Homo sapiens: one gene and its partners. The protein of the gene in region 1 purifies or fractionates together with the protein of each later gene. This does not show direct contact. Each region holds a gene or a part of one and is shown in the gene's direction. Other genes may lie near its edges.

What was found.
Region 2: the proteins of DENR (region 1) and PDLIM5 purify together in Homo sapiens (affinity purification with mass spectrometry; 2 studies listed by BioGRID and IntAct, with this or other methods). This does not show direct contact.
Region 3: the proteins of DENR (region 1) and TALDO1 purify together in Homo sapiens (affinity purification with mass spectrometry; 2 studies listed by BioGRID and IntAct, with this or other methods). This does not show direct contact.
Region 4: the proteins of DENR (region 1) and VDAC2 purify together in Homo sapiens (affinity purification with mass spectrometry; 2 studies listed by BioGRID and IntAct, with this or other methods). This does not show direct contact.

The regions. Positions count from the first base shown.
Region 1 is NC_000012.12:122,755,442-122,763,045, forward strand, and holds part of DENR (density-regulated protein), read left to right. Parts: intron 1-6,745; coding exon 6,746-6,765; intron 6,766-7,403; coding exon 7,404-7,488; intron 7,489-7,604. UniProt on the Homo sapiens protein: Translation regulator forming a complex with MCTS1 to promote translation reinitiation.
Region 2 is NC_000004.12:94,454,591-94,462,194, forward strand, and holds part of PDLIM5 (PDZ and LIM domain protein 5), read left to right. Parts: intron 1-656; 5' UTR 657-698; coding exon 699-794; intron 795-1,228; exon of another isoform or gene 1,229-1,653; coding exon of another isoform or gene 1,654-1,968; exon of another isoform or gene 1,969-2,594; intron 2,595-7,604. UniProt on the Homo sapiens protein: May play an important role in the heart development by scaffolding PKC to the Z-disk region. May play a role in the regulation of cardiomyocyte expansion. Isoforms lacking the LIM domains may negatively modulate the scaffolding activity of isoform 1.
Region 3 is NC_000011.10:742,771-750,664, forward strand, and holds the start of TALDO1 (transaldolase), read left to right. Parts: upstream 1-4,693; 5' UTR 4,694-4,711; coding exon 4,712-4,808; intron 4,809-7,894. UniProt on the Homo sapiens protein: Catalyzes the rate-limiting step of the non-oxidative phase in the pentose phosphate pathway. Catalyzes the reversible conversion of sedheptulose-7-phosphate and D-glyceraldehyde 3-phosphate into erythrose-4-phosphate and beta-D-fructose 6-phosphate.
Region 4 is NC_000010.11:75,205,670-75,214,048, forward strand, and holds the start of VDAC2 (non-selective voltage-gated ion channel VDAC2), read left to right. Parts: upstream 1-5,126; 5' UTR 5,127-5,269; intron 5,270-5,464; 5' UTR 5,465-5,489; coding exon 5,490-5,520; intron 5,521-5,812; exon of another isoform or gene 5,813-5,914; coding exon of another isoform or gene 5,915-5,990; intron 5,991-6,560; coding exon 6,561-6,629; intron 6,630-8,351; coding exon 8,352-8,379. UniProt on the Homo sapiens protein: Non-selective voltage-gated ion channel that mediates the transport of anions and cations through the mitochondrion outer membrane and plasma membrane.

The DNA.
Region 1 (7,604 bases):
GGTGGCAGGCACCTGTAATCCCAGCTACTTGGGAGGCTGAGGCAGGAGAATCACTTGAACCCGGGAGGCAGAGGTTGCAGTGAGCCGAGATCACGCCATTGCACTCCCACCCGGGCAACAGTGCGAGACCCCATCTCAAAAATAAAAAACAAAACTAAGGATGTGAGAAAAACTGATACATTTATTTTAACAAGATGCTCAGAATATAGATTCCTATTATATTTTTATATAATGATTACCTGTGAAACAACTCTTTAAATTTGGAAACCTATGTGAGTAAAGGATAAGATCTATTCCCTGTGACCTCAGAGGGTCAGTGAACTAGGACTAAAGTGGAAACTACTGAAAGGTGCCTTTCTACCTTGTCAACACTCTCCAGAACAGTACAGGCTTCCACTTAATGTAAAAACATTCTTATGCTTAATTGAAGAAACTAGTAGTGGAGATGGGATTAGACTGTACCTTTTAATTTCTAACATTACCATTTTGTAAAAGTAGTGGATTTTGTTAGCCAGCTTGGTAAGAAGGTATGATGACATTGTTAATAGAGTCCACATCATAATCAACAATTTACAAAGACTATAAACAATTTTTACCTAGTATCTCTGATGTATAAGGTCCTCGGCTAAGTTCTGTGGAGGCATATAAATTGGCAGAGGCCCTGTCTGTCTACATATAACTTAACAGGGAAGATGATGAATGCTGAAAGAAAGAGACAAGAAATAGGCCAGGCGCGGTGGCTCACACCTGTAATCCAAGCACTTTGGGAGGCCAAGGTGGGTGGATCAGCTGAGGTCAGGAGTTCAAGACCAGCCTGGCCAACATGGTGAAACCCTGTCTCTACTAAAAATACAAAAATTAGCTGGGCATAGTGGCAGGCGCCTGTAATCCCAGCTACTCGGGAGGCTGAGGCAGGAGAATCGCTTAAACCTGGGAGGCGGAGATTGCAGTGAGCCAAGATCGTGCCACTGCACTCAGCCTTTGAGAGCAAAACTCCATCCCAGAAAAAAAAGAAGAAAGAGACAAGAAATAAAGATTAAGGACTAATAGCTGCAGTGTCAGTACAGGAGGGGAGAGATTTGTAGGAAATTAGGGGAAGACTTCATAGAGGCAACCACAGCCAAATGGGGATTTGAAGGAAAGGTTGCATTCAGGCAGGCACAGAAGGGCTGAAGGTTGGACTTGCCAGGCAAAGGAGTGGAGGTAGGAAAGTATTTAATAGTGGGTAGTGTGGAGGGAGTTTCGAGTGTTACAGTTTGGTTGTATTGTGGAATTCATGAAGAGGGGCAGCCGGAAATTATGGCAACGTGGTTTGGGGCCAAGTTCTGGGGCACCTGATTTGTAGATAATTGTAAGTCATTGAAAGTTTTGGAGCAGTGAAGTTACATGAAGATGAATCTGGCAGCAAGATAACAATTGAGGGAGGCAGGCTTATTGGCCAGGCTATAATAAGACTTTAGACAAAATTAATGAGCATTTAAATGAGTGGCATAAGTGAGGAAGAGAGGTTGAAAAATAAATTATGGTAGGATGAACAGTATAAAGCAGTTAATCAGATTTGAGGACAAGGGAGATGGGAGAAATAAACTGGATGTAGTTTTGACAGACATTTAGTATTGCTGGAGTGCTTAGAGAAGAGGGAAAACCCTCCAATAGAATACCCAACTGATTAAAGAGAAAAATAGAAGCGATAGTGACATAGGCATTTTTCTTATCATTCCTTCCCCCTCCCTCCCTTTCCCCTTTTGCAAAAAGAAGGATGCAAATTAGAGAATTTGCTCTCAGCTAAAGTCTGGGGTTTCAGAGAGCAGCTCAAATTCATTTAGGAAACACGTTTTAAGCATCTGCTCTGTGGCAAGCATTGTGCTCCATATACAGAAATAAGACATAATTATCTCCTGGAAACTGAGCTTAACTGGGAAGACAAACATTTTAACAGGTGAGTTATAATGTACTAATTGTATACTAGAGGGGTGAGCAGACTGCAGTGAGAATAAAGAACCAACCAGTTCTACTTGGGAGAACTGAAAAAAGGGAAAGTTAAAGTATTGAGTGGATTTTATGTTTGTATATTTAATCTTCAAAATTGAAATATTACAGTTTTATTGATGATAAGCTTCTCAATTGTATAAGTGGTGGGGCCAGGATTAAAATCCAAGACAAGCCATTATAACATCAGCTTCAAGGAAACTTAGCAGAGTCTTGAAGGATGAATAGGTGTTTGCTGAAAAGAATGGCATGGATAGAAGTTCATTGTGGTTGGACCATGGGCTGGTAGGAGTTGAGTCTGGAGAAGTACGATAAGATGTTTGAAAAGTTCTTAATCTGGGAAGTGATGTGATTGGTTATATCTTTTTGGATAATAACTGTTTGGAAGGAAGGAGGAAGTGCCTGAAATGGGTTGAAACTGGCCACAGAAATCAAGTTTAGGAGACTTTATTTTTATTTTAATCTTTTCCACCCTCCTCCCCAAATTTAGAAGACTTTAAAGTATGAGATGATTGAGGCTTAGTGACACTGTGTGCAAAGTTAGTGATTTTGGTGACTGTTGACAGCGAAATTTGTAATTGAAAATATTGACTTTCAGGAAGCTGATTGTGGCTGTTCATTCTCTGTTATAGAAAGGCAGTTTTTGTTTGTTTGTTTTTCAGAAGGAGTCTCACTCTGTTGCCCAGACTGGAGTGTAATGGCGTGATCTCGGCTCACTGCAACCTCCGCCTCCAGGGTTCAAGTGATTCTCCTGGTTCAGCCTCCCGAGTAGCGGAGATTACAGGCGCCTGCCACCGTGCCTGGCTGATTTTTGTATTTTTAGTAGAGATGAGGTTTCACCATCTTGGCCAGGCTGGTCTTGAACTCCTGACCTTGTGATCCACCCGCCTCGGCCTCCCAAAGTGTTGGGATTACAGGCGTGAGCCACCAGACCCGGCCATTCTGATGTGTTCTTAAGACTAGATTTAGTTTATGATCTTGTGCCAAGACCACCACAGAAGTGCTGTTAATTTCAGTGCATTTTATCAAGAGGTACCTGGCTGTGGATTAGTCCCATTCCATGTTTCCATGTGGTGGTAACTTTGCTCATTTGGCCAGGCACAGTGGCTCACACCTTTAATTCCAACACTTTGGGAGGCCGAGGCAGGCAGATCATCTGAGCTCAGGAGTTTGAGACCAGCCTGGGCAACATAGTGAGACCCTGCCTCTACAAAAAATTAAATAAATTAGCCAGGTGTGGTGGCAAGTGCCTGTAGTTCCAGCTACTCGGAGGCTGTAGTGGAAGGAACACTTAAGCCCAGGAGTTCAAGGCTGCATGAGTTAAGATCACATCACTGCACTATAGCCTGGGTGACAAAGTGAGACTGTCTCTTTAACAAAAAAAAAGAAGCTGGAGTCTAGAGGCTTAATTTTTTATTTATTTATTTTTTTTTTGAGTTGGAGTCTTGCCCTGTTGCCCAGGCTGGAGTGCAGTGGCAGTCTCAGCTCACTGCAGCCTCTGCGTCCCAGGATCAAGCGATTCTCCTGCCTCAGCCTTCTGAGTAGCTGGGACTACAGGTGTGCGCCACCACACCCGGCTAATTTTTGTATTTTTAGTAGAGATGGGGTTTCACCATGTTGGCCAGGCTGGTCTTGAACTCCTGACCTCAGGTGATCCACCACCTCGGCCTCCCAAAGTGCTGGGATTGTAGACGTGAGCCACCACACCCGGCCTAGAGGCTTAATTAGATTCAAGTTAAACAGATTTTGGCAAGAAAGTTTCGTGGATGATGTTTCATTCATCATGTTGCATTGCATCAAGAGCTCATAATGTCAGATGTTTCACTATTAGTGATGCTAAGTTTGAAGGTGACGGCTAAATGTTTGCATTGAAAAGGTACAGTTTTCCCTTTCCAAATAAGTAAGTGATCTGTAAAGAGAAATTGACTTTTTTAAAGCAAATAATGGTGAACTTAAAGGAGCTCCCCCAATTTTTTTATTGCATTAGAATTTTGCTGAACCGGGCCAGGCACAGTGGCTCACACCTGTAATCACAGCACTTTGGGAGGCTGAGGCCAAGGCAGGCAGATCACTTGAGGCCAGGAGTTCAAGACCAGCCTGGCCAACATGGCAAAACCCTGTCTCTACTAAAAATACAAAAATTAGCTGGGTGTGGTGGTGCACACCTGTAATCCCAGCTACTCGGGAGGCTGAGCTACGAGAATCACTTGGACCCAGGAGGTAGAGGTTGCAGCCAGCTGAGATGGTGCCATTGCACTCCAGCCTGGGCAACAGAGCAAAACCCCAATTTTTTTTTTTTTCTGAACTAAATATTATTTGAAATAGTATACAAAATTTGTAGCTTTAGTATTTGCTGTGATGGTGTTTAACCAATAATTGTATAGTTATATCCTGAAAGTGTGGCTGAACAACTATGCCTAGTATTTGAACTTGAATTGTGAGGAATATAGGGCTGTAGCTAACCAGAGAGATCTTTGGTGGAAATAACCCTAAACTATAATAGACTAGACTGGACAAAACCAATGGATTCCAGTTTTCTTCTGCCACATACCACCTTTGTCATTGTATGAGCTGTTTAACTCTTTTAGTGCCCCATCTGTAAAATAGTGATTGTGTGGTAGCATGTTAGAATGTTAGTAGGGTGAGGTGAAGGCAGATCATTTTCAGCTGTCAGGTGCCACTAAGTTGCTTGTTTACTTTGTGTAACCTAAGTTAGTGGTTAATAGCATGAGCGTCAGAAACAGGCAGATTCAAATCCTGTTATCCAGATGCAAGTGGTTATGTACTCTAAGCCTCAGTTTCATCATCTGAATATAGATATGGTACTTATCTTACAAGGTTGTGATAACTAAACATAATAATGTATATAAGGCATAGCAAAACATTTGGCACATACTAGGTGCCCAGTGTGTAGTAATTGCTGTGACTACATGGTATACCACCTTCCTCTCCCTGAGAAATCTCAGGATATTGGACACACTGAACTACTCCATTCTAAACCTTAAACATAAAAACAAAAGGCCGGGCGCGGTGGCTCACTCCTGTAATCCCAGCACTTTGGGAGGCTGAGGCGGGCGGATCACAAGGTCAGGAGATCGAGACCATCCTAGCTAATACTGTGAAACCCCGTCTTTACTAAAAATACAAAAAATTAGCCGGGCGCGGTGGCGGGCACCTGTAGTCCCAGCTACTCTGGAGACTGAGGCAGGAGAATGGCGTGAACCCGGGAGGCGGAGCTTGCAGTGAGCCGAGATAGTGCTACTGCAGTCCGGCCTGGGTGAAAGAGCAAGACTCCGTCTCAAAAATAAATAAATAAAAACAAAATAAGCAGTTGACCCAGTATTAGAATTACGGTTAAAATTGGAAGCTTTTCCAGTTCTTCTAGTCCATTATTAGCCTGTACAGGCTCTAACACCAAATGACAGGATTGAACCAAGATTCCTTCTAGCTTTACACTTTCATGATCTTATGTAGCATAACATGAAAAAGCCTTGGCAACATAGCGAGATCCCGTCTCTACAAAAATAAAAAACTTACCTGTACATAGTGGCTCACGCTTATAGTCCCAGCTACTTGGGAGGCTGAAGCGGGAGGATTACTTGAGCTGAGGAGTTCGAGGCTGCAGTGAGCCATGGACACACCACTACACTCCAGCCTGAGTGACAGAGTGAGAGTGAGACCCTTACTCTAAAAAAAATAGGCCAGGTGCGGTGGCTCATGCCTGTAATCCCAGCACTTTGGGAGGCTGAGGCGGACGGATTACCTGAGGTCAGGAGTTTGAGACCAGTCTGGCCAACATGGTGAAACCCCGTCTCTACTAAAAATACAAAAATTAGCCGGGCGTGGTGGCACACGCCTGTAATCCCAGCTACTTGGGAGGCTGAGGCAGGAGAATTTCTTGAGCCCAGGAGACAGAAGTTGCAGTGAGCCGAGATCGTGCCTCTGCACTCCAGCCTGGCAGAAAGAGCAAGACTCTGTCTCAGAAAAAAAAAAAGGAAAAATATATTGCAAAAAGATGGTAGTAAAAATGCTGCTAAAGTTTATAAATGTGTCAGTATGAATAAAAAGTGGTGGCTGTTTTGGTAGAACCATCAAAAGAAATAACCAGGCTGGGAACAGTGCTTCACGCCTGTGATCCCAGCACTTTGGGAAGCTAAGATAGGTAGATCGCTTAAGCCCAGAAGTTTGAGACTAGCCTGGGCAACATGGTGAAACCTTGTCTCTACAAAAAATTAGCTGGGCATGGTGGTGTGCATCTGTAGTCCCATTTAGTTGGGAGACTGAGGTGGGAGGATCATTTGAGCCCCTGGAGGGGTGGAGGCTGCATTGAGCCATGATTGCACCACTGCACCCCAGCCTGGGCAACAGAGTGAGACCGTGTCTCAAAAGAAAAGAAATAACCAGTTTCCTTCAAACTCTGATGTATGGGAAATTGTTCGTGTCTTAGCTTAATTTTTTGACCCACTGAAATGGTTATGGTAAGACCTCATTATATACAAAATAGCATATTTTGATGTTCCATCAGCTGATGGAGACACTCTTTAGATGAAAAAGTCAAGATAGTATCATCTCAAATAACCATGTGCCTTTTACCCCAAAAACACTGAAGAGTAGCATTTGAAAAGTGGTATAGAAAACTTATAGGGAAAATGTAAAAATGAAGCATTTTCTCAAATATAAAAGTAAGGATAAGCCCTGTGTATGTGTGTACATATAGGTTTAACATTTCAAATCTTTTTTCTTTTTACTTCCTCAGTCTGTTCATTACCAACAGAGGTAAGTTCTTTAATTTTTTTTTTTACCTTATGTATTTGAAGTTATTCTTGGTTTTAAAGCTACCTTGAGAATTTTTTTTTATTTTTCATTTTTGATTATTTGATAGTAAAGCTTTAACCTTTTATAGAGAACTTTGATTTAGAGTAATTTTTTGGTCTTATATATTCTTTCCTAAATTTAGACCTTAAATCATACATGTGCATCTTTTGCACATGGCTGTGCAGTTTGGATTTTTGCATGGGACTTATGAATAGTCAGCTAATAAAATAAGAGTAACCTTAATGCCAAAATCTATACAAATGAGCAGAGGAAAGAAAGGGCAGTATAAATTATGTGTAAGACTTTCTAAGTCCAGCTCTATGAGCAAGTCATGAAAATGAGGCACTTATGTGCTCAAAGCAAGAAATAGAGGGAGAAGAAATAAATTGGTACTGTGAAGAGGTACCTAATCCTTCTTAATATCTAATTTTTTATGGGACATATCGTGGTTGAATACAGATTTCCTGTGGATAAGAAGTCAGATGGGAGTGGTTTGTTTTATTCTTTGTATTAACAAGTATAGGGGGTGATTTTTAATTACGACATATTGTTTGACTGAAAATGTTTTGTTGTGACTCAGTTCTTTTTTTTTCTCCTAGTACTGTGAATATATGCCTGATGTTGCTAAATGTAGACAATGGTTAGAGAAGAATTTTCCAAATGAATTTGCAAAACTTACTGTAGGTATGAACATTTTTTTTCTTGCATTAAACTTCTGTACCTGAGACAAATGCATGTATGGCATTATTCTAAAGATAGGAAAGTCCTCCTTTAGTAGGATATTACAGAATTAACATTTA
Region 2 (7,604 bases), on another chromosome or scaffold:
TAGAGTATTGCCTATCGTTGACTATCTGAAGGAAAAGTAGATATCACTTTAAGTGTGGAAAATACCATGTCCCCATAGGAGGAAATACAAGTTGTAGTTCATGATTGGAGAGAATAGTTTTGTGCATTGAAAAACAGCTTCTCATTGTAAAGAATTTAGTATTTGGAAAGCATGAATGGGAGCCTACTGATTTGCAGTCTCTTTCACATGTTAGAGTAACTTAGAATTTAAGTAAGTGCAGTTGAAAGACTCTTGTCAATTGCAGACAAAAGAATACATGAAGTGGAGGGAAGGAGAAAATTATTCTGAATTCAACCTGAAATAAAATCTTGCTACATTAGTGAAGTATTGTAAAGTACTTTGAGTTAAACTTTGCATGCAAGAAGCCACAAAATTGGATTGAAGCAAGTTGTGAAACATACTAAGTGTCTAGAAATGTATTCTGATATGGAATTTTTAGACCATGGAAATTGCCATGAGTGTAGAAAATTTATATTAGCTCACAGATTGCTTTTCTTAAACTGAAATTAATGAAGAACTTAATTAAGACTTATCTTCTATATCCTCTCACCCCCCTCAAACAAAATACTAAACATAATTTATGTTCTAGGGTTTCAAGTAAACATTTTTGCTAATCATCTGATTTTCTTTCACAGCATATTTCATTTTCTGTCATTGGACTTTGAGCCATTAGAACCATGAGCAACTACAGTGTGTCACTGGTTGGCCCAGCTCCTTGGGGTTTCCGGCTGCAGGGCGGTAAGGATTTCAACATGCCTCTGACAATCTCTAGTGTAAGTAAACTTTACAAATTTTATTATAGATGTTCATTCAGTGCTTAGTCCTCGGGCTGAGTTGTTTAATTCTCTGTTGACCTGTACTCTACTTATTATCATTGCTCCTGGGATTTGATCTTGGCAAATTTGATTATCTATAATAAAGGATGAGGGGAGTAGATTTAGCAAGGATAACTGACTTCAATTTAACTTCTTTTCGTTTTCCCCCATGTTATCAATAATAAAATGGAAAAAGCATTTAACTAGGAACAGACTGTACATTTTTGAACTGTCCCTAATTTGGGGAATTCTCTGAATCTTCGTTCTTTCATATATAATTTTCAAAGGTTGTGCTATGGGATTTTAATAATCTCTTTCAGTTCCAAAAGCTGTTTGTTAAAAACTGTTGATCAAAATTGAATAAAATGATTGTTTCGGAATTATTTCCTCAGCTCACTTTCTGGTGGAGGTGATAGCCAACAGTAAGATGGCCAAAAGCTACTTACCCTTGAAGAGGAAATGAAGGGCTTGGAGCTCCAACTAGATAGCCTATGAATAATTGAGATTTGGCTTTTTACCTCATTATGGATTTAGTTTGAATGTATTCTGTGTATATATTTTAAGGATATGTTTTCATGATGATGATGATAGCACTGATGAGAGGAGTAATTAAAGCTTCTATTTATTGAGACTTGACTATATGTCAGGTACTGTTTCACTTTCATCACCAGTAGGTAATTATTACTATTATATAAGTTTCTAAAAGGTTTGTTTTTGCATATTCAAATAAATATGAATTTCCATCTTCTTTTACTCAAATGGTGGCATATTATACACACAGTTTTTTTTGAGACAGAGTTTTGTTCTTGTTGCCCAGGCTGGAGTGCAGTGGCGCAATCTCGGCTCACCACAACCTCCATCTCCCGAGTTCAAGCGATTCTCCTGCCTCAGCCTCCCGAGTAGCTGGGATTACAGGCATGTGCCACCACGCCTGGCTAATTTTGTATTTTTAGTAGAGACCAAGTTTCCCTATGTTGGTCAGGCTGGTCTTGAACTCCCGACCTCAGGTGATCTGCCCACCTCGGCCTCCCAAAGTGCTAAGATTACAGGCGTGAGCCACCGTGCCTGGCCCACACTGTTTTATACTTTGCTTTTTTTTGCAACAATTTACCCTGAGATCATTCTCTATTAATATATAAGGAGGTATGTGTGTTTTTTTAAAACAATTGTATAATTTTATTTTATAAGGAAAGTGACATTTAACCAATCCCCTACTGAAGAGTATTTGTGGCATTTCCATATTACTGTTACAGTGGTACAGTGAATACCAAATATAAGTACATACATATATATGTGAATATATGTATCTACGTCATTTTGAAAGGTTGTGCCAATTTACACTTTTGTGCAACGCATGAAAATACTATTTTTGTGCCAGTCTTACCAACAAACTTGGATATTTATCAAGTGCTGTGAATGCATCATCTCATTTAATTATCATACCAACATGCAAAATAGTGATATTATTCCCATTGTATATAACTGTGCTGTGCGCTCACATGACTGTATGGAAGAGCTGGCTTTCCAACAGTTATGCTGTGCTGCCTCTTTAATAATTCACTTTACCTTAAATTTAGTTAGTTGTTTCTTTAATCAGATATTTAGAAGATTGTCATTTTGGTTAATAATATATGTGTATGTATAAATATATATACACACACATACTCTGCATCTTGTATGTGTATCCAACTTCATTTTGAAAGATTAAAAATAAGTTTGTAACGCCTAAATATCCTTATTAAAATACTGCAAATCCCATTTTACTAACGGAGTCTCCTTTGTTTCTTGGCTGTGGATTTTTTTAAAGTTATCTTTAATTTATCATCAATTTCTGCCTTGATTTCAGTTAATTAGATTTTATAAGGAAGTATATATATGTAATCCAGCCTGCAAGTTTTAACACCTTTCATGGTTAGATGAAATTTTAAATGTAAAGCATCCATGTGAAAATGTGTCATGTGATTTATTCCTGTTTGAGTGAGTTGGTATTTTATTTCTTCTACTGATGATCTATTATGGGAACAGGAGCAATCTTTGAGTATTATTGGTTTTTACGTTTTGTTAGCATTTTATATTTTAAATATTCTACTTTAATTATCTAAAGAAAGTTATTAGTTTAAATGCTTACTTTTTTGCTGAAAAAAAGTTCAGAAACAAATTGACACCTAAATGAGCCAAACTTAATTATCACTTTGTTGTGTGGTAATAGAAATGCAAATAGAGTATGTTTGCGAATTTTGTGGTACCGTGTCTTTAAAAAAGTTTCATGTGCTTCAGTTTCCTGGCAGACAGTTTGAGGTACTAGCTCCATGTTGTGATGCTGATACAACAGAACACTGTGTACATACATATGTGCCCTCCCCTGGCACAGAAGAAATGCTTTCCTTGTGTAGACAGAGTGCTAATTAAAGGATTTTGAACATACTGATTAAAAGAGACTATGGTAACAAAGCTGCTGAGTTATTTCTGTTCTCTTACAAAAGTCTCTGCCATCTACTGTGACCTTTTTGGGCCTTGTGCAGTGGGGCATGCAATTCATTCTGGACTGGAGAGGATTGGAAGGGGAGGGGAAGGAGAGAAGGGAATGTTGGCTCAATCGGGCTGCTAGGCTCTTGGCCTTTCATTGTAGTTATTTTTAACCCCTTGTGTGGTTTAAATATGCCTAGTAACATTGCCTAATAAAGGTTTGCGTTTAATAACTAATTTATATTGTGGTAAGATTGTTAATGTTATAAATTTTTAACTTACTCTCATCTTAATTAGTTCTTTGGTTATACTTTTTCTGCCTTAATTATGTAAAATTACTGGGATATTACTGGTCATCAGGTTCTTTAATTAATAGTATCAAGAAACAATTAAAACCTGAAAGCATGCTTAAAACATGTAATTTAATGATTCACTTACTTTAATAATGCACATGAAATTCTTAGCAAGGTCTGGCAGTCTCTCAATTATCTTTTATAATAATATTATAAACTTTAAAAAGAAAACTATTTAGAGACTTGAAACATTAAATATTTAACCCCCGTAGTTGTAGGGAACATACAGTTATGGTTTTGTTTTGTTTTTTTAAACTTATTGTCCACTGAAATTAAGAAAGGAAAAAAAATCAGAAGTTTGTACTTAGCTGGGAATCTGCATCTTTAGAGTTCAAAACTGTGCAATTTTTCCTCTGATTAGGTATTATTATGTTGAACTCCAAAGGGTCATTTACATTCCTTTATAACACTGGAGCTCTGGTGTATCGAATTGTGTTATGAGATAAGCCACTAGCAGGGACTTGAACATTCCATTTTCTTTAGATTTTGTTGTATCAGCATGTGAATATGCTGAATACAACTTGTATCCTAAAGCATACAAGCTATAACATTTTCACGTTGGACTCAAATTTCTTCATCATCTGTATTGTATGAATTTTGTATACTGTTTTGTTGGTGGATTTCTAACATAAGATTGCCAGTTCCTGCTAGCTTTTTAAAAAGATCCTCAGGTTGCTGTAGCTGGATGATCACATGTCATTTAATTTCCGATCCTTAAAATGGAGTGCGGGCTACCTAAGTTTGCAGGCTGTCTTTTTATGATCCTGTGTTTATGGAATTGCCCTGAAGCCATGGAATGTGAGGATGGGTTTCATTGTAGCAGTGTGGGTTTGTTGGTTTTTGCCAGTATATTTTATAACAAGAAATAGGAGACTTGTTGGATAATTCAAGGCTATATTTTGGCCAGTTGATAAAGATTATATATTTGTGAGTAACATCTTTTAAGTTGTTATATCCTAAAGTTGAAATACTCTGCTGTGTGTTACTTTCTCATTATGTTTGGGCTCTTTTCTTCACTGTCAATATTTGGATTACCTGAAGATGATATCCCAATTCTCTGTAAACACATTTTAGATGTTTCTTTAAGAGATAAGAATTAGGTCAAACTTTTTAACATCTAAATAACAATGACTTTGATTCTCAAGAGTTAGGGGAGGATAAATTGTTATAAGCTTGGACAAAATTCTAATTGGATTTGAAAAGCAGAAGAAACTTACTATTGCTTGGATTATGGAGCCCTGTTTGGGAGTCTAACACAGAACAGAGAAGGACAGAATTGTGAAACACTTTGCTATGAATTCATTGATTCAGTAGTTATAGTAATACTTCCTAGAAGCCACTGAAGAAGATACAAAGTGGGGAGTACAAAGGTTGGATGGAAAAGAAATAAGCACAGTGCTATAGAACTAGACAGTGTCGTAAGACCTGTCACAAGTCAATATTCTATGAAATGACAGATTCTGATAAGTGTTTCTCAGTTTCAGTGGGTGTAAATCTTTTGTTTGTGGGGGTTGGTTTCCTTTAGGAGAAGTTAATTGAACTGATCCTCAAAGGATGAAATTTAAACACCTCAAAGTCAGCATTTCTCCGTGTTGTCCAGTGCCTAGTGAAGATGAAGACTTTTCTTGCCATTGCTTGACTCCAAGTAAAGCTGTGAATGTAGTTGAGCGATTCTCCAGACCTGCCAGCTGCAGTTTCCCTCCTACCGGAAGACAGAAAGACTTTCAGTCCTCAAGCTGAAATGAGAGAGCCATCCTACCTTGAATAAATGGGCCCATTGTTAATTTTAAGCTCTTGAGTATTTTCTTTTATATTCCCTCCAAGCTACCCTGTCATTATGCCAAGTTAGAAAATTAATTTAGTTTGTATAACTATATGATGTATATTTCACATGTGTGTTCACTCTGCTTTAAAAATATTAATTACCTTTTGTGTGAAGTTCAGAGACCTGTCTTTTCCCATGTGGCAGTTTTATATGTTTTGTGGTCACAAATGTCAGGAATCTCAATGTAATTCTGGATAAATTTTTCTGCTCTATGATTTGTAAAGAAATGAAAATCTTATATTTTTTAATTGAAAATTAGTAGTTTTAGAAAAAAACGCACTTATTTGATTTTAGTAAACGTTGGGCATTTTGAAAAGTTATTCAGAGAAATGTTACTGGTAGGCAGGACTTTTGTATCTGATGGAGGAAACCGATGTAGGGTTTGGATAAAATAAGACTAGCAGGCTGGGCACAGTGGCTCACTCCTGTAGTCTCAGCATTTTGGGAGGACAAGGTGGGAGGATCACTTGATACCAAGAGTTCAAGGTTACAGTGGGCTGTAGTCATGCCACTGTACTCCAGTCTGTGCCACAGAACCAGACCCTGTCTCAAAAAAAAAAAAGAAAAAAAAAAAGGTAAGAATAGCACTTTAGACCTTGGGAAAGAACGTTTTCATGTAACTATTCATCTACTCGTGAGTTAGGTATATCTACCTACTTAAACTAAGAATAGATAGATAATAGATAATGTACAGCTGTATATTGGAATGACTTGGATTTAAATCTTAGCTGGAAAATCAGTTCATTAATTTGAGCTTCTGATTTTCTTTGATGTATGGGAAATGCTTTATAAATTAAAAAGTATACAGGTAGATTTGATTATTATTAATAATTTGGAGCCTGTGAGCTTTCAATTTTTTTTAGAACTTCTGAGGCAAAGAGCTTTTCTTTATGATAGTTGCTAGTCACACTACATGTGAATACACAGTTGAACAGTGGTCTTTGTCTATGACATCCTGTTAGCAGTAGTTCTTACCCAGATTCCCATATACCACAGGACCAGTTATATCTTTTTCCCCCAGTTACAACTGTATTGAGGACAAATCAGTTATGATTTAGTTATTTCTAGAAGCAAACGTTGCTTTAGACAAAAAAGGAGTTATTTAGCATCGTATGAGAGAGAATTATGTTTCAACTTTGGCAGATGAGACTCTAGGCCTTTATTTCAGTATCTGAGATGCAAAAAATATTGAGTACGTGACATAAAATTTGACAAAACTAGATATTAGCATGTGAAATAACAATATGTGGATCTGTTTGCAAATAAATGACCTAATGGAAATGAAAAGAGAAAACATTAAGTAACTAAAGAGCAGTGACCATGGTGTCTACTGATTCTTTAGGTATTCTATGTGTTGGGCCACTATATAGTCTTGTTGAGAAGGCAGGTTTGGTTCCTTAATTAACAGAGAGGGAAAAATCACTTTTCTAGCGTACTTTGTTTTTATTAAGAGGTTTTTTTTTTAAAGGTAATAAACTAAGAATGGACAAAGCAGAGAATATTGAATGAGTATCCCCTTATTCCTTCACCTTTCTTATTTTTTTGTTTCCTGTTTAAGTATAGTTATCTACCCTTCTGTAAATACTCAGATTTCTTTTATAGCTGATGTTGTCACCCATTTTTTATGACAATTACTAGAACAGAGTTCACCAACCTTGTTGGCATTTAGTAACTGGACTCCCAACTGGGCTAAGCAGTTGTAGTAAATGTCCCTAATAGGCGTAAATAGAGGAGAGTAAAATGAACTGGAAATGTTAATAGGAGGGAATGAGAAAGAAAAAGTTAGATGAGAGAAAAAAATAAAGAGGACTTTTTAAAAGGCTGCAGCGTGTCACCCAGGCGGGAGTGCAGTGGCGCGATCTCGGCTCACTGCAACCTCCACCTCCTGGGTTCAAGCAGTTCTCTGCCTCAGCCTCTTGAGTAGCTGGGATTACAAGCATTCGCCACCATGCCCAGCTAATTTTTTTGTATTTGTGGTAGAGACAGAGTTTCACCATGTTGGCCAGTCTGGTCTCGAACTCCTGACCTTTGATCCAGCCACCTCAGCCTCCCAAAGTGCTGGGATTACAGGCGTGAGCCACTGCACCCAGCTTAATTTTCTTTAGGTAAGACATTCATATGGTT
Region 3 (7,894 bases), on another chromosome or scaffold:
GCTCTCCTTTGTGGAGGGGCTGCTCCCCTTTGTATGGTAGGCAGTGCTCCCTTTCTATGGTGGGCAGTGCTCCCTTTGTATGGTGGGTAGTGCTCCACTTTGTGGAGGGGCTGCAGTTTGGCCCATTCTCCTGCTGATGGACATTTGGGTTGTTTCCAGTTTGGACCTTTTGTCAATAAAGCCACTATGAGGATCTGTGTGCCAATCTTCTTGTGGAGAACTTTTTATTGAGGAGTGGAACTGCCAGTTCCCATGGTAAGTACATGCTTAAGTTTATGAGAAACCATAGGACAATTTTCCACAGCTCATTTTGTTCCACTTTCTTTTTTCTTTCTTTTTTTTTTTTGAGGTGGAGTCTCGCTCTGTTGCCCAGGCTGGAGTGCAGTAGCGCAATCTTGGCTCACTGCAACCTCCGCCCCCCAGGTTCAAGCAATCCTCCTGCCTCAGCTTCCCTAGTAGCTGGGACTACAGGCACATGCCACGATGCCTGGCTAATTTTTTTTTTTTTTTTTTTTTTTTTTTTGAGATGGAGTCTCGCTCTGTCGCCCAGGCTGGAGTGCAGTGGCGCGATCTCGGCTCACTGCAAGCTCTGCCTCTCAGGTTCATGCCATTCTCCTGCCTCAGCCTCCCGAGTAGCTGGGACTACAGGCACCTGCCACCATGCCCGGCTAATTTTTTGTATATTTAGTAGAGACAGGGTTTCACTGTGTTAGCCAGGATAGTCTCGATCTCCTGACCTCGTGATCTGCCTGCCCCGGCCTCCCAAAGAGCTGCGATTACAGGCGTGAGCCACTGCACCCAGCCTAATTTTTGTATTTTTAGTAAAGACGGGGTTTCACCATGTTGGCCAGGCTGGTCTCGAACTCCTGACCACAGGTGATCACCTGTCTCGACCTCCCAAAGTGCTGGGATTACAGGCGCGAGCCACCGTACCCAGCCTTTGTTCCACTTTCATTCCCACCAGCAGCGCATGGGTGTTCCTGGAGCTCCATGTCCTCACTGGCACTTGGTGTTGCCAGTCTTTTGTTCTCACTATGATCCATGTGGACAGATCTCATGGTGGTTTTCATTTGCATTTCCCTAATAAATACTGTATACCACCAAGCTTGTCCAGCCCTTGGCCTGCAGGCCGCATGTGGCCCAACACGAATTCGCAACCTTTCTTAGAACATGAGATTTTTTATTTGCAATTTTTTTTAAGCTCATCAGTTATTGTTAGTATATTTTACATGTGGCCCAAGACAGTTCTTCCAGTGTGGCAAGGGAAGACAAAAGATGGCTACCTGCTCTATACCTTCTTCTGTGATGTATATTTCCTATTTTTGCATTTCAATGGAGAGAAGAAAGTCCTCTCAACAGATGCTGGAACAGGTGGAGAAAAACTACTTTCCATATCCAGGTCACGGAGACAAAAATAAAGGGGGCCAGGCGCGGTAGAGAAAAACTACCTTCCACTTCTAGGTCACAGAGACAAAAATCAAGGGGGCCCTGTGCGGTGGCTCATGTGAAACCCCGTCTCTACTAAAAATACAAAAAATTAGCCGGGCGTGGTAGTGGGCGCCTGTAGTCCCAGCTACTCGGGAGGCTGAGGCAAGACAATGTCATGAACCTGGGAGGCGGAGCTTGCAGTGAGCCGAGATCGTGCCACTGCACTCCAGCCTGGGCGACAGAGGGAGACTCCGTCTCAAAAAAAAAAAAACAACAAAAAAAAAACAAACAAACTGGAGTGGCCTCAAAGACTCTTAACATAACAGCTGAAAACCAAGACATCATAAGAAAATATTTTTGAGGCCGGGCGCGGTGGCTCACGCCTGTAATCCCAGCACTTTGGGAGGCCGAGGCGGGCGGATCACGAGGTCAGGAGATCGAGACCATCCTGGCTAACACGATGAAACCCCGTCTCTACTAAAAATACAAAAAATTTAGCCGGGCGAGGTGGCGGGTGCCTGTAATCCCAGCTACTCGGGAGGCTGAGGCAGGAGAATGGCGTGAACCCCAGGGGGCGGAGCCTGCAGTGAGCCGAGATTGCGCCACTGCACTCCAGCCTGGGCGACAGCGAGACTCCGTCTCAAAAAAAAAAAAAAAAAAAAATATTTTTGTTGGCTGGGCGTGGTGACTCACGCCTATAATCCCAGCACTTTGGGAGACTAGGGTGGGCGGATCACGAGGTCAGGAGATTGAGACCATCCTGGCTAACACGGTGAAACTCTGTCTCTACTAAAAATACAAAAGTTAGCTGGGCGTTGGCCGGGCGCAGTTGCTTAACACCTGTAATCCCAGCACTTTGGGAGGCCGAGGCAGGTGGAACACGAGGTCAGGAGTTTGAGATCAGCCTGGGCAACACGGTGAAACCCCGTCTCTACTAAAAATACAAAAGTAGCCGGGCATGGTGGCCCATGCCTGTAATCCCAGCTACTCGGGAGGCTGAGGCAGGAGAATCGCTTGAACCTGGGAGGCGGAGGATGCGGTGAGCTGAGATCGCGCCATTGCACTCCAGCCTGGGCAACAAGAGTAAATCTCCATCTCACCAGAAAAAAAAAAAAATTTGTCACTTTGGAGCAAGCAAAGACTCCTTAGAGAAGATACCAAAAAAGAGGAGTAAATATAAAATTAAAACTTGATAAATTGAACTTAATCAAAATAAAAAGCTAACGTTCATTAAAGACACTATTAAAATGAAAAGGGAACACATGCTGAGAGGAAGTATTGAAACCACCTTTGCAAAATTATAACTAAGGAAATTATGACAGTGAAAGATAACAGACTTAACCAATTCCATCTTGTTTCTAACCTTCAAACGGTCCTTGTCCATTACTGGCCATAGGCCAAACAAGTCTTGGGAAGGAATTTAATTTATAGTTTAAATAATAGCCCTTCCCCAAAACTAGACTGTTCTTGTAAAATGAATGAAAGGCCACCAGCCACCAAGTTAGAATGAGAGGGGCTGGAAGTCTAAATATTATCAGCCATTATTCTGGAGGTCATAAGATAAGATTTGCAACTTCCCCAAGATATCAACACTACTGTGAACCTAGGGTTGGCCTTTTTTTTTTTTTTAAATGGAGTCTCGTTCTGTAGCCCAGGTTAGTGTACAGAGGGACAATCTCGGCTCACTGCAACCTCCACCTCCCAGGTTCAAGCCATTCTCCTGCCTCAGCCTCCCAAGTAGCTGGGATTACAGCCATGTGCCACCACGCCTGGCTAATTTTGTATTTTTAGTAGAGACGGGGTTTTGCATGTTGGCCACGCTGGTCTCCAACTCCTGACCTCAAGTGATCGCCTGCTTTGGCCTTTCAATGTGCTGGGATTCCAGGCCTGAGCCACCGCGTCAGCCTAGGATTTGCCTTTTAAGAAGTCTTTTCCGCCGGGCGCGGTGGCTCACGCCTGGAATCCCAGCACTTTGGGAGACTGAGGTGGGCGGATCACGAGGTCAGGAGATCGAGACCATGCTGGCCAACATGATGAAACCCCGTCTGTACTAAAAATACAAAAATTAGCCGGGCGTGGTGGTGAGCGCCTGTAATTCCAGCTACTCGGGAGGCTGAGGCAGGAAAATCGCTCGAACCCGGGAGGCGGAGGTTGTAGTTAGCCAAGATCGCGCCACTGCACTCCAGCCTGGGCAACAAGGGCGAGATTCCGTCTCAAAAAAAAAAAAAAGTCTTTTCAGGTTTTTGCATTTCTGACAACCGGATGGCCCCACCTGGACCTGCCAACCAGTTGTGTGGCCTCTACCCAGGGACTGACTCAGCATAAGCGGACAGCTTCGACTCCCTGTGATTTCATCCCTAGCTGACCAGTCAGCACTTCTGACTCACTGGCCCCCTACCCACCAAATTATTCTTAAATACTGGGATCCCCGAGTTTTGGGGAGACTGATTTGAGGAATAAAACTCTGGTCTCCCGAACAATCGGCTCTGTGTGAATTATGCTTTCTCTATTGCAATTCCCCTGTCTTGACAATAGACTCTGTCCCGGCAGCTGGCAAGGCGAACCCATGGGGCGGTTACAGTGTCTGCAACGCAGACACAAGCGACAGAGACTTGATCAGAATATACAAGGAACTCTGCAAGTCAGCGATGGTAAGAAGCAGGGCAGCTGGGCCTCCTACGCCTGCCTCGCCGTTCGGTCCCCCGGACACCTCTGGGCTTAGGACTCAGGGGAACAGATTCCCAGAAGCAGGTTCCCCGCCGCGTCCGGCGCCCGGGCTCTGCAGCCGCCCCCTGCTCTGCCTCCTGCACCCGCAGGGCGTCCCCCGCCGCTCCCTCCCCTGCTTCCTGCAGCGGCCCCCGACCCCAGTCCTGGCCCCACCATGGATCCTGCATCGCCGGGTTCGGCCCTGGCGGGTTCAGCCCCGCAGAGTCGGCACCCGGGCCAGGTCCATCTCCTCCAGCCCTCCCGGTGCGTCCCGCGGGGCAGGAAGGAGGCGAGGCCCAGCCGCCCCGTGTCGTGCAGGTGTTTTCCCGGGCCCGTCCGCGGCGGCTGCTGAGGACCTGGGGAGACCCAGCCTGTAGGATCCGCAGCTGCGGTGCGCGGCCGGCAGTGGCGCTCGGGCTTCGTCCCCGGGGGCGGGGCTTCGTCCAGGCGCGCAGGGACCAGCGGGCCTCGCCCTCCCGCGCCGCTTTCCGATTGGCAGCCGCCCGCGGGGCATTGTGGGCCGTCCGCGCGCCCGTCCCGTCGCCGCCGCCGCCGCCGCAGACCCCTCGGTCTTGCTATGTCGAGCTCACCCGTGAAGCGTCAGAGGATGGAGTCCGCGCTGGACCAGCTCAAGCAGTTCACCACCGTGGTGGCCGACACGGGCGACTTCCACGGTGAGGACGGCGCGGAGCCCGGGCGCGGCGCAAGCGCCCTCCAGAGGCCCCGGCGCCCCGATTTCCCCGGGTCTCCCGTTCCGGGACGCGGACCGGGTGGCGGTGCCCCGGGCGGCTCGTTCCGGGAGGAATGAGCGCAGGTGCCGGATGTTGGGGCCAGGGACAGCCGTGAGGGGAGCGGGGCCCGGGTCGGCCGTGAGAGGCGCAGGGCCAGCGGCGACCGTGAGGGGAACGGGGCCCGGGTCGGCCGTGAGGGAGCAGGGCCGGGGGCAGCCGTGAGGAGCTGGGGTCAGCCGTGAGGGGCTCGGTGCTGGGGTCAGCGGTGCGGGCGGTACTGACGGGTCCTTGCGAGCCGTGGGGCACGAAGCCGGAGCCCCAGCCTCGCCCTCCGCCCAGGGTGGGGTCGGCTGCGCCCTCAGACCCCGCACCCGGGACGGGCTGTGGGCAGCCCGCGGGAGCCCCTCTGTGCACCTTCATGGGTCGAGGCAGCTTTCAGAGCCTTTGAGTTCAGGAGAGATTCAGGGTAGAGCTTCGAGCTGACTTCCACGTGGCCAGTTTGTGGTCAGCGAGATGCAATTTTGTTGGGCTGATGTCTGCAGAGCGGGGACATCAGCTAGCTCTGACCAGAAGCTGCCAGTGCTGCCATCGCCCTTGAGCCCTGCGGTGCCCAGTGGGACAACTCCGTGGGCGGCAGGTGCCCGGCCTGCTGGACAGCCACCGCCAGACGCACCGGGTGGGTAAAAGCCGGTGCCCATGAAAGCACAGGGTTGGTACACTGTTAAATACTGGATTTTCCTGGGCTTGAGTTGTTTACATTGGAGAGAACTTGGAAAATACAAAGAAGGATTATTTATTAATACTTAGCTCTTCTGTCCTCTGCAGTGCAGAGTAGACGAGCCTTGTGTCTATGTTTTGTTGAGAACAAGTAATATTTTTTAAGAAAATCATGAAACGCTTCATGGATGAATGCTGCGAGCACCTAATACGGAAGTGACTTCCTCTCTTTTCTGCTTTCTCATGGTGACTTGAGAAACAGGCTTTAATTCCTCTTTGGTAACTGAGTAAGGGCATTGTTTATCTAGCAGAGCCTAGAGAGTGAATTGGCATGTTTGGCTGCTTAACCATAAAATATGGGGATTCAGTGACTGGCTTGGGGTGCCACAGTCTGCTCCGGACCCCTCTTTGGGAGATCCAAAGCTAGAGCTGTGAATCCCTCACACACACAGCCCCCCCGTTGTAGTCCAGACCTCTCTTCATAAGAAAGAAAGCTCCAGAAAAGGGGCTACACATTTTTCTGCTGCTCAGTTTTTTCCCTTCTTAGCACTGAGAATAATTTGCAGTTTGCCTGGTGGACAGAGCGCTCATCTGTATTGTTCCTTACTGGCCCTCACCAGTTAGGGCAGAGCTGGTGCGGAGTGTCAGGTCCATTACACTTGGCAGTGCAGGGCCAATAAAGATGGATTTTCCTAAACCCACACCCACAGGAGGGCTGGGGAGTCCTGGGTTTCTGGTTTTGTTTTGTATTGTTTTTTAAGAAAACTTCTGGCCCAGCGAGGTGGCTCACGCCTGTAATCCCAGCACTTTGGGAGGTTGAGGCAGGTGGATCACGAGGTCAGGAGTTCGAGACCAGCCTGACCAACATGGTGAAACCCCGTCTCTACTAAAAATACAAAAATTAGCTGGGTGCGGTGTTGCATGCTTGTAATCCCAGCTACTTGGGAGGCTGAGGCAGGAGAATTGCTGAACCCAGAAGGCGGAGGTTGCAGTGAGCCAAGATCACACCACTGCACTCCAGCCTGGGCGACAGAGCAAAACTCCGTCTCAAAAAAAAAAAAAAAAAAATCTTCTAAACCCAAGTTGTGACATTTTTTTTTAATGAATATTAACAAAAAAATACATTCATTGATAGTATATGTTCATAAATGTTATATAGTTGTAAAATAGTCTGTTGGGTTTGTGATCTGTAGTTTGTGAAGTGAAGGTTCTTAACTCCTTGTGGGAGGGAGGCACAGGCCTCTGGAAATAGAATCAAAGCTGTGAATGCTCTTCCCACAATGTGATCCTCCCCATTTTGCATTCAGTTTAAGGATCCCTGGACCCTGAAACCCATTTTTGCCCCAATGGGCCTTGGTTTTGTTTTAATTTTGTAAAAGCCATTTGCTAAAAGCTGACTTTATCCAGGGGTGATTTTACAGGACGAAATGGGCTGTTTTCAGTGCCTCATTCAGTGCATTCTGGCAGACCTGTGTTAGCACTGTGCCAGATGTCATGTTGAAATGAGTATAGATGCACAACAGGCTTTTTCTTAACTTGTCATGTTGAAATGGGTATAGATGCACAGAAGTTGCAAAATCAGCCCATACAGTCCTGTGAACCCTTCAACCACTGTCCCCCATGGTGACATCTCATGTGACCATGGCATGGCATCCACACCGGGAAGTGGGCACTGCTGTGGTGCTGATGCTGTTATAGACTGCAGGCCTGGCTCAGGGCTCCCCAGTTTCCCCCTGCACTGGGGCAAGGAGGCTATGTGACAGTTTCATAAAGTGTGTAAATTCCTGGACCACTGTGACAGGACATAGCTGTCCCATTGTCACTGAGATCCCCGTGTCCCTCAGAGACCCCTCATTCCCTGTTCCTTGGCAACCTCTAACCTGTTCTCTACCTCTATAGTTTTGTCATTAAAGGACCCTTTGAAAGTACTTATTCCAGCCTGCGCAACATGGTAAAACCCCATCTCTACAAAAAGGAAGAAAAAAAAATAGCCAGGCGTATTGGTGCACACCGTAGTCCTAGCTACTCAGGAGGCTGAGTTGGGAGGATCACTTAAGCCCAGGAGGTTGAGGCAGCAGTGAGCTGTGACTGCGCCACTGCACTCCAGCTTAGGAGACAAAGTGAGACCCTGTCTCAAAAAAAAAAAAAGATATTTATTTGCCAAATAAAGTTACTGAACTTGTGAACTTCGGCCGGGTGTGGTGGCTCAAGCCTGTAATCCGAGCACTTTGGGAGGCCGAGGCAGGCCGATCATGAGGTCAGGAGATCCAGACCATCCTGGCTAACACGGTGAAACCCCATCTCTACTAAAA
Region 4 (8,379 bases), on another chromosome or scaffold:
GGTGGCACGTGCCTGTAGTCCCAGCTACTCAGGAAGCTGAGGCGGGAGAATCACTTGAACTCGGGAGGCGGAGGTTGCAGTGAGCCAAGATTGTGCCACTGTACTCCAGCCTGGGTGACAGAGCGGGACTGTGTCTCAAACAAAAACAAAAACAAATCAAAAGCAAAAAAATCATATGTGGTTTCCAAACAATTCTTGCCACTTCAAGCACTCCTATGATTTTGCACATCCTCTTTCTAGAATTTTGCCTTCCCAGCCTCCACCTGTTGGCTTTCTAATTTTGGTAAGTCCTGCTTTCAAACTTTAGTGCAAGTAGCTCCTCCATCTGACTGTGCTCAAGGTTCTCTGTATTTACATCTTAGAACTGTACTTGCAGGAGCCGAGTGTGGTGGCTCACACTTGTGATCCAGCTACTTGGGAGGCTGAAATGGGAGGATTGCTTGACGTCAGGAGTTCAAGACCAGCCTGGGCAACACAGCAAGACCCTGCTCCCCACAAAAATACTGTACTTGTGACATCTTGAGCTTGTCTTTCCCATACCCCATCCTTTGTTGGGGCCAATTCTCCATGGTGTTTCTACCCATCTTATGGCAGCTTTTGTCTCAGACTATCTTTCCAAGGATGTTTACTTAGCAAACAGCCTTGGAAGATAGTATCTCTCTCTGGGGCAGAGAAAAGATTTTATTTCCTGAGCAGTATAATAATCTCCCCCTCAGGGATTGTGAACCCCGAAAATTTGAGAAATTTCAGAATTTAGAATTTAAATTTGAGAATTTAGAAAGTTTATTTTGCCAGGTCAGGCATAGTAGCTCATGCTTATAATCCTAGAACTTTGGGAGGCCAATGTGGGTGGATCACCTGAGGTCAGGAGTTCGAGAGCAGCCTGGCCAACATGGTGAAACCCCATCTCTACTAAAAATACAGAAATCAGCCGGGTGTGATGGCAGGTGTCTGTAATCCCAGCTACTTGGGAGGCTGAAGCAGGAGAATCGCTTGAACCTGGGAGACGGAGGTTGCATTGAGCTGAGATTGTGCCACTTCACTCCAGTGTGGCAGTGTGGGCGAAAGAGCGAAACTCTATCTCCTCTGTCTCAAAAAAAAAAAACAAAAAGCAAAAAAAAAAAAACCTGGCGCCGTGGCTCACGCCTGTAATCCTAGCACTTCGGGAGACCGAGGTGGGCGGATCACCTGAGGTCAGGAGTTTGAGAGCAGCCTGGCCAACACAGTAAAGCAGCCATCTCTTTAGTGTGGTAAAATTACAAAAATTAGCCGGGCGTGGTGGTGGCGCTCCTGTAATCCCAGCTACTCAGGAGGCTGAGGCTGAAGAATCGCTTGAATCCAGGAGGCAGAGGTTGCAGTGAGCAGAGATCACACCATTGCACTCCAGCCTGGGTGGTAAGAGCGAAACTCAGTCTCAAAAAGAGAAAAAAAAGAAAGTTTATTTTGCCGAGGTCGAGGACACTTAGCCTTGACACAGCCTCAGGAGGTCTTGACGACATGTAACCAAGGTGGTCAGAGCACAGCTTGGTTTTATACATTTTAGAGAAACGTAAGACATCAATCAACATATGTAAAATAAACATTGGTTCGGTCAAGAAAGGCAGGACAACTTAAAGTGGTCAGGAAGGGCGGGACAACTCGAAGTGGGGAGAGGGCTTCCAGGTCACAAGTAGGTGAGAGACAAATGGTTGCAATGAGTTTCTGATTAGCCTCTCCAAAGGAGGCAATCAGATACGCATTTATCTCAGTGAGCGGAAGGATGACTTTGAACAGAATGGGAGGCAGGTTTGCCCTAAGCAGTTCCCAGCTTGACTTTTCCCTTTAGCTTAATGATCTTGGGGGCCCAAGATATTTTCCTTTCACAGTATGAAGGTTGGGCAGATTTGTTAGCAGCTCCTTCTAAGACACGTGGTTTTGTAAGCTTAGGGTTCCTTGGCTGTGACACGAATGCATGCTGTGCACAGCATCCACCTAAGCTGCTCTGGCATCATCCTTGAGGGACACAGAGGACAGGGGGAATTGAGGCAAAACACGAAGCTTACACTGCCTGCTGGGCCACAAGTAAGAGAGTCTTTTGTCCTTGACCCATACGTCTCATGTCTTCTGCTAGCATCTGTGAGCCTCTGAAACTATGGCAGACTAACTTGATAGTTTGCAAGTAGGGTAAACTTTTGGACCCTCCCCTGTTCTTGACATCTTTACACACACTTGACTGTTAAGTGCCTTGAGAGTAGGGACTGTGTCTCAGTGGACTTTGCTTACCCTGTGGATGACACAAAGTAGTTGCTTGTGGTAGGTAGTAACTACCTACTAATGCCGCTTTGGTCTAAAGGACTTTGGATGTAAGCACTCATATTTATTTACTAAATTCAGCTCTGGAAAAAACTGCCATTATTCCCCTGTTTAGCCACAGATCTTCTTCCCCTGGTCATTAGGTATTGTGTACATTCCTTGGGTTTGCAGAAGGTGAAGCCACAGAGAAAGTGAAGTGCAGGGGGCTACAAATTGCTACAGAAAATTCACATTGTGAATAAGCCCTGCTGCAGGTAGTGGAGGTGACTCATTTATCAGACTGGGTGTTTCGGGGAGGTAGGGTGCTGTGGTGCAGTTGGGATGGAAATGCCGGTCTTTGTTGTTAGCCTCACAATAACATCAAACATACCAGACTATTTCCCAGAAGAGCCAGGATGACTGCAAACCGACCTGTCTGAGCTCGAATGAAGGAATGAATGAGGGCTTCTGGTGCCTGATGTCTTAGAAGTAAATTCTGCTAACCTTTTGCAACATGAGTAAGCCCAGTCATGACCAGGCAAGACAGCTGGCTGGGCTTGCTCATGGGAGGGAAATCTTCCAGGCTGCAGCTTTCATCTGGGTTTTGAACTGTGGAAGCCTATCCTTTTCTGGTTTAGGAGGAGGGTAGAACGTTGAGAGCATTTGAGCAGACATGGCTTTCAGAGCCAGAGAAAGTCAAGGGGGAAAAGGCTTTGCTCAGAGACTATGGCTGATGGCTATTAAAGATCACTTCGTTTCATTTGTCATTTTATAGATTAAAAAAATGAGGTAGGCCGAGCGCGGTGGCTCACACCTGTAATCCCAGCACTTTGGGAGGCCGAGACTGGCAGATCACGAGGTCAGGAGATCGAGACCATCCTGGCTAACATGGTGAAACCCCGACTCTACTAAAAATACAAAAAATTAGCCGGGCGTGGTGGCAGGCACCTGTGGTCTCAGCTACTCGGGAGGCTGAGGCAGGAGAATGGCGTGAACCCGGAAGGTGGAGATTGCAGTGAGCCGAGATCGCGCCACTGCACTCCAGTCTGGGCGACAGAGCGAGACTCCGTCTCAAAAAAAAAAGAAGAAAACCCAAAAAAACCACTGAGGTCTACCGGCGACATTATTGGATAGATGACTGCTTTGGGAGTTCCAGTTGAACCCATTTCTATTTCATTAGACTGCTCATTTTTTCTTTTTCCTTTGGCTCTGTTAAAAGAAAAAATTACAAAGAATTTAGTTTAAACATCTTAACTGGCTTTTAGTTCCAATTCTACAATTGGGCAACGCTTCATTCTGTAAAATGGAATGAATGTTCCAATGAGAAGAGGAAGTTGGTATTACAGACAGAAAAGGACCGAGGAAAGCAGAAACAAAAAGTGGATTAGTTGGTAGAAAGTTACTTTTCTTGTAAAGGTTAAAGAACACGGGACTTCTTCATGCCAGCTAAAACTGACCTGTTTGGGGATTTTTGTTTTGAGACAGGGTCTTACTCCAGCGGGCAGGCTGGAGTGCAGTAGTGGCACCATCTAAGCTTACTACAGCCTCAACCTCCCAGGCTCAAGCGATCCTCCCTCCTCAGCCTCCCAATTAGCTGGGACTACAGGCGCCAGCCACCACGCCCGGCTATTTTTTTTTTTTTTTTTTTTTTTTTTGGTAGAGGCAGGGTATTACTATGCCTAGGCTGGTCCGGAACTCCTGAGCTCAGGCGATCCGCCCACCTCGGCATCCAAAAGTGCTGGTATTACAGGTGTGAGCCACCGCGCCCAGCCTGTTTGGGGATCTGGCTAGCATCTGTTTCTCTCCTGATTTCTTGGAAGGTCAGATAAAGATCCTAGCTTTGGCGTGGTAGTGTGAAACTTCAGCATGAGTAACCCCATTTTGGTTTGGTCTGATGGGCCTAATGCAGGAGGTCAGTCTAAACTAACGGTCTCCCATATACATTTTATCTAATAGCTCTGTCACCCTTCCTGCACACCCGGGGAACTCGGGTGCGGCATTCTAACGCCTGCTCAGCATGATTCCACATTTTCTCCAGGCCCATAATCCAGAGGAGGTTGGGCCCGGAGCAGGCTTGCCTCGCCAAGCTCCGGCTCCGTGCGTGTGTGAAGCAGTGCCATGCCTGAGTGGGGAGGAGCCGCGGAAGAGAAAGCGTAAGGCGGCGTGGAAATGGGTGGGGCACGCTAGGACCCGCTCACATTTGTTCAGGGAGAGGCAGTCCCAAAAAGCCTCTCAGGCACACAACCCAGCACAGCAAGGCAGTCACACCAAGGTGGGAAAAGAGGGCAGAAGAGCGCGAGGGGCTGGAGGTGGCGCCCCTGTGTCCCACTCGTTCTCCCTGGGCTGGGAAAGAGAAGCGGTCCCTCAGAAGCGCAGGCTGCGCTAGCTTAGGATGGACGTGGGTAACGCTCAGCTGACTCCCCGCAGGCACCCTATGCAGGGCTTTGTTTCGGGGGGGAACCCGCACCAGCGCGTAAGGGGAGTAGGAGAGATCTACGTGACCCTGGTGCGCAGCCGCGCCCTATCGCCCCGGCCACGCGCCGACGCCCCGCCCCGTCCGTGACGCGTTCGCGCGGGGCCTCCGCCCCATCCCCCTCCCAGGCGGTCCCCAGCGCGCTGCCTCCGCCGTTCCCCGCCCCCTCGCCTCTGAGGCTGCCCGGATAGCTGCCTGATCCAAGGCCCAGCAGCTTCTGCCTTCCGGATCCCCACCGACGGACGGAGGCAGCCCACCTGCAGGACCGGGGCGCTGTCGGTCCACGTGGCCGCTCTGGAGCAGGTTGGAGTTGGCAGCGGGCTGCGCTGCAGGGACAGGCGCGGCGGACAGCCCCGGGGGCAGCGGCGGGGTCCTGTCTGGGAGAGGACAGGGTTGCGGCGGGCGGAACGGTGTCTCCTTCACTTCGCCCTCCAGCTGCTGGAGCTGCAGCCCGACCGCGAGCGTGCCAAGCGGCTTCAGCAGCTAGCGGAGCGGTGGCGGCGGCCCCCCTCAGGACACCACCAGGTACCGCCGCGCCCGCCTCACGCCGACCCAGGGGCCTAGGCCGCGGCGGCCAAGCCGGAGGCCCGCGCCGGACTCGGAGTCGGCCCTGGCTTCCTAAGATGGCCGCGCTGCCCCGCGGCCCCTCGCCCCTCTCTGCCCGGGATCTCCCTTTGGCCCTTTGACCCCAGCTTACCGCACTTCTTGTCCCTCCCGCAGATTCCCCTCTTCCCGCGGCCTCGCCATGGCGACCCACGGACAGACTTGCGCGCGTCGTAAGTAAAGCTGGGATCTCTGCGGGATGGGGCGGCGGAGAGTCGAAGCCTGTCGACCAGAAACCCAGTTTGTTTCCCCCTATCTTTCCAAGAACTTGGAAATTCGGCTGCTTTTGGTGGTCGCCCCACCGTCTGACCACCTCCTCTGCGGAGGAGGGGCTGGGCTGCTGGATTTCAAATGGGGAACAAGGCCCGGGGAGTTGGTCTGTGGCCGCATGGACTTTTCAGCCTTTGTACATGTCTTTGACGTATAGAAGTAAAAAGTTGTTAATTGGGGATTCTGCCTTTGGAGGATCGGATCAATCACTTTTCTAGAGGAAGTAGCAGTCCCTCTTGTGAGAGCGCAAGGTCATTACTTGTGCTCCTAAGGGCGTGGACGTGCTTTGTGGAATGAATGAGCTGGTGTAATGAGCTCAGATTGCCTGCCCTTAAGCAGCACAGCATTGGCCGAGGACTTGAGAGTCACATTAGTAAGTTTGAAGCGCTATTTGATATTTAGTTGATGTAGACATTTGAGTGAAACACACATGGCAGTATTTTTTCCAAGTTTCAATATTTAAATTCCCAGTATTAAATTCTCTTCCCACTCCAGGGTGTTGGTTTTCCCCTCAGCGAAGATATTAAAGGACGTATCAGGGTAAAGGGCCTAGTCTTAGGTTTCGGTTTTATCTAATTTAGTTAAATCAGCTCATCTCAGTGAATTTTGGCAGATACATAAATATCCATACACACAAATACTTGTTTGATTCTTTGTACTTGTCCAGTCCTAGGAAGTGAGGCTGTAGGTAATAGACTGTTTTTCCGTTTTGAAACGAATTCCCCAAGTTTGTATAATCATGGTTATCTGTTTTAGAAATAATTCGTTGGTGGTATCTCCTTTATGGGTCGTTATAGTTCTATTGTAGCTCCTGACCGCATAAAAAACATTCCAACAAATGGGATTGCTTGAATTTTAATATCAGCAGTGGGTCATGCTCTTGTTCTTGGATAGAAGGTGGGAGAATAGAGACATTAACACTGGAATGTTTTTTTTCTACCAGCAATGTGTATTCCTCCATCATATGCTGACCTTGGCAAAGCTGCCAGAGATATTTTCAACAAAGGATTTGGTAAGAACCTTATTTTTAAAACGTTTTAGATAAAGAGTGAAAATGTATGTTTGGGTTGCTTAGCGAAATCAGATCAATCATTGCAAATTGTAAATATCTTGCTGCTTTAAATTTAGAGTTACTTATTTTTTTGAGACAGGGTCTCCCTCTGTTGCCCAGGCTGGATGCAGTGGCATGATTATACCTCACTGCAGCCTGGACCTCCTGGGCTCAAGCGATCATCTTTCCTCAGCCTCCCACGTCCCAAGTAGCTGGGACTACAGGCACGCTCTGCCACACCTGGCTAATTTTTTTTATTTTTCGTAGAGGTGGGGTCTCACTGTGTTACCCAGTAAACACAGTGGCCTCTCAAAGCCTGGTTGGATTACGTTACAGACATGAGCCACTGTGCCCAGCCTTGTATTAATTCTTCTATTAGAAACTTAAGATACTTAGATTAAACTTATGTGAAAATAGTTCTTTTACAGTCTACATCCCCCTCCCCCAATTTCCCAAAATTTTTAAAAACTGTACTTAGAAGATTTGAGCCTTTAAGAAAAACGGCTCGTGCTTTAATTTTTTTTCAGTTATAGCTTAGGCCCTGGTTGACTAGAGTTACGATATATTACTGTTTTGCTTTTGTGGTGACTCCTAATACTTTATCTAGAGTTATGAGCTTTTTCAGGTGAATTTGAGTTTTCTTGAAAATTTTGTTCCATACCCTCCTCCCCTTTATTTAGACTGTTGGAAATACCCCATTGGCATAAATGTCCTAAATGTCTGTATTATGATAAGTTGGTTTTGTTTTTGTTTTTTTTTGAGACGGAATCTCGCTCTGTTGCCCAGGCTGGAGTACAGGGGCGTGATCTCGGCTCCCTGCAGCCTCTGCCTCCTGGGTTCCAGCAATTCTCCTGCCTCAGCCTCTCTGGTAACTGGGATTACAGGCACATGCCACCATGCCCAGCTTTTTTTTTGTATTTTTAGTAGAGACGAGGTTTCACCATGTTGGCCAGGCTGGTTTTGAACTCCTGATCTCAAGTGGTCTGCCTGCCTCGACTACCCGAAGTGCTAGGATTTCAGGCGTGGGCCACCGCACCTGGCCATATCATGATAAGTTATTAGCTATTCTGAAATTTCAGTTGAATGATTTTTTAATCTGATATTTAAGTTTAAGAATAGTTTGGGGGCTGGGCGTGGTGGCTCACACCTGTAATCCCAGCACTTTGGGAGGCCGAGGCGGGCAGATCACGAGGTCAGGAGATCGAGACCATCCTAGCTAACACGGTGAAACCCCATCTCTACTAAAAATACAAAAAATTAGCCAGGCGTGGTGGCACGCACCTGTAGTCCCAACTACTCGGGAGACTGAGGCAGGAGAATCGCTTGAACCCAGGAGGTGGAGGTTGCAGTGAGCTGAGATCGTGCCACTGCACTCCAGCCTGGGCAACAGAGTGAGACTCCGTCTCAAAATAAATAAATAAATAAATAAATAATTTGAAAGCATTCTTTTGTGTACCAACTACCAAAAACTAGACAAAGCAGCATAGGGATAATTCTGCCCTTTATAAGCCAGTTTACAAAAGACGAATTTGTAACAATTTCATTTAAATATTGTATATTAACACATTTTTATCCACCTCTGAATATGTGGAATCTTTTTGTTTTTTATGTATAGTCAACAATTGCTATGCATCTTTCATACAAAGGAATCATTTTGTTTCTTTTGCTGTCTATTTGTTGAAGGTTTTGGGTTGGTGAAACTGGATGTGAA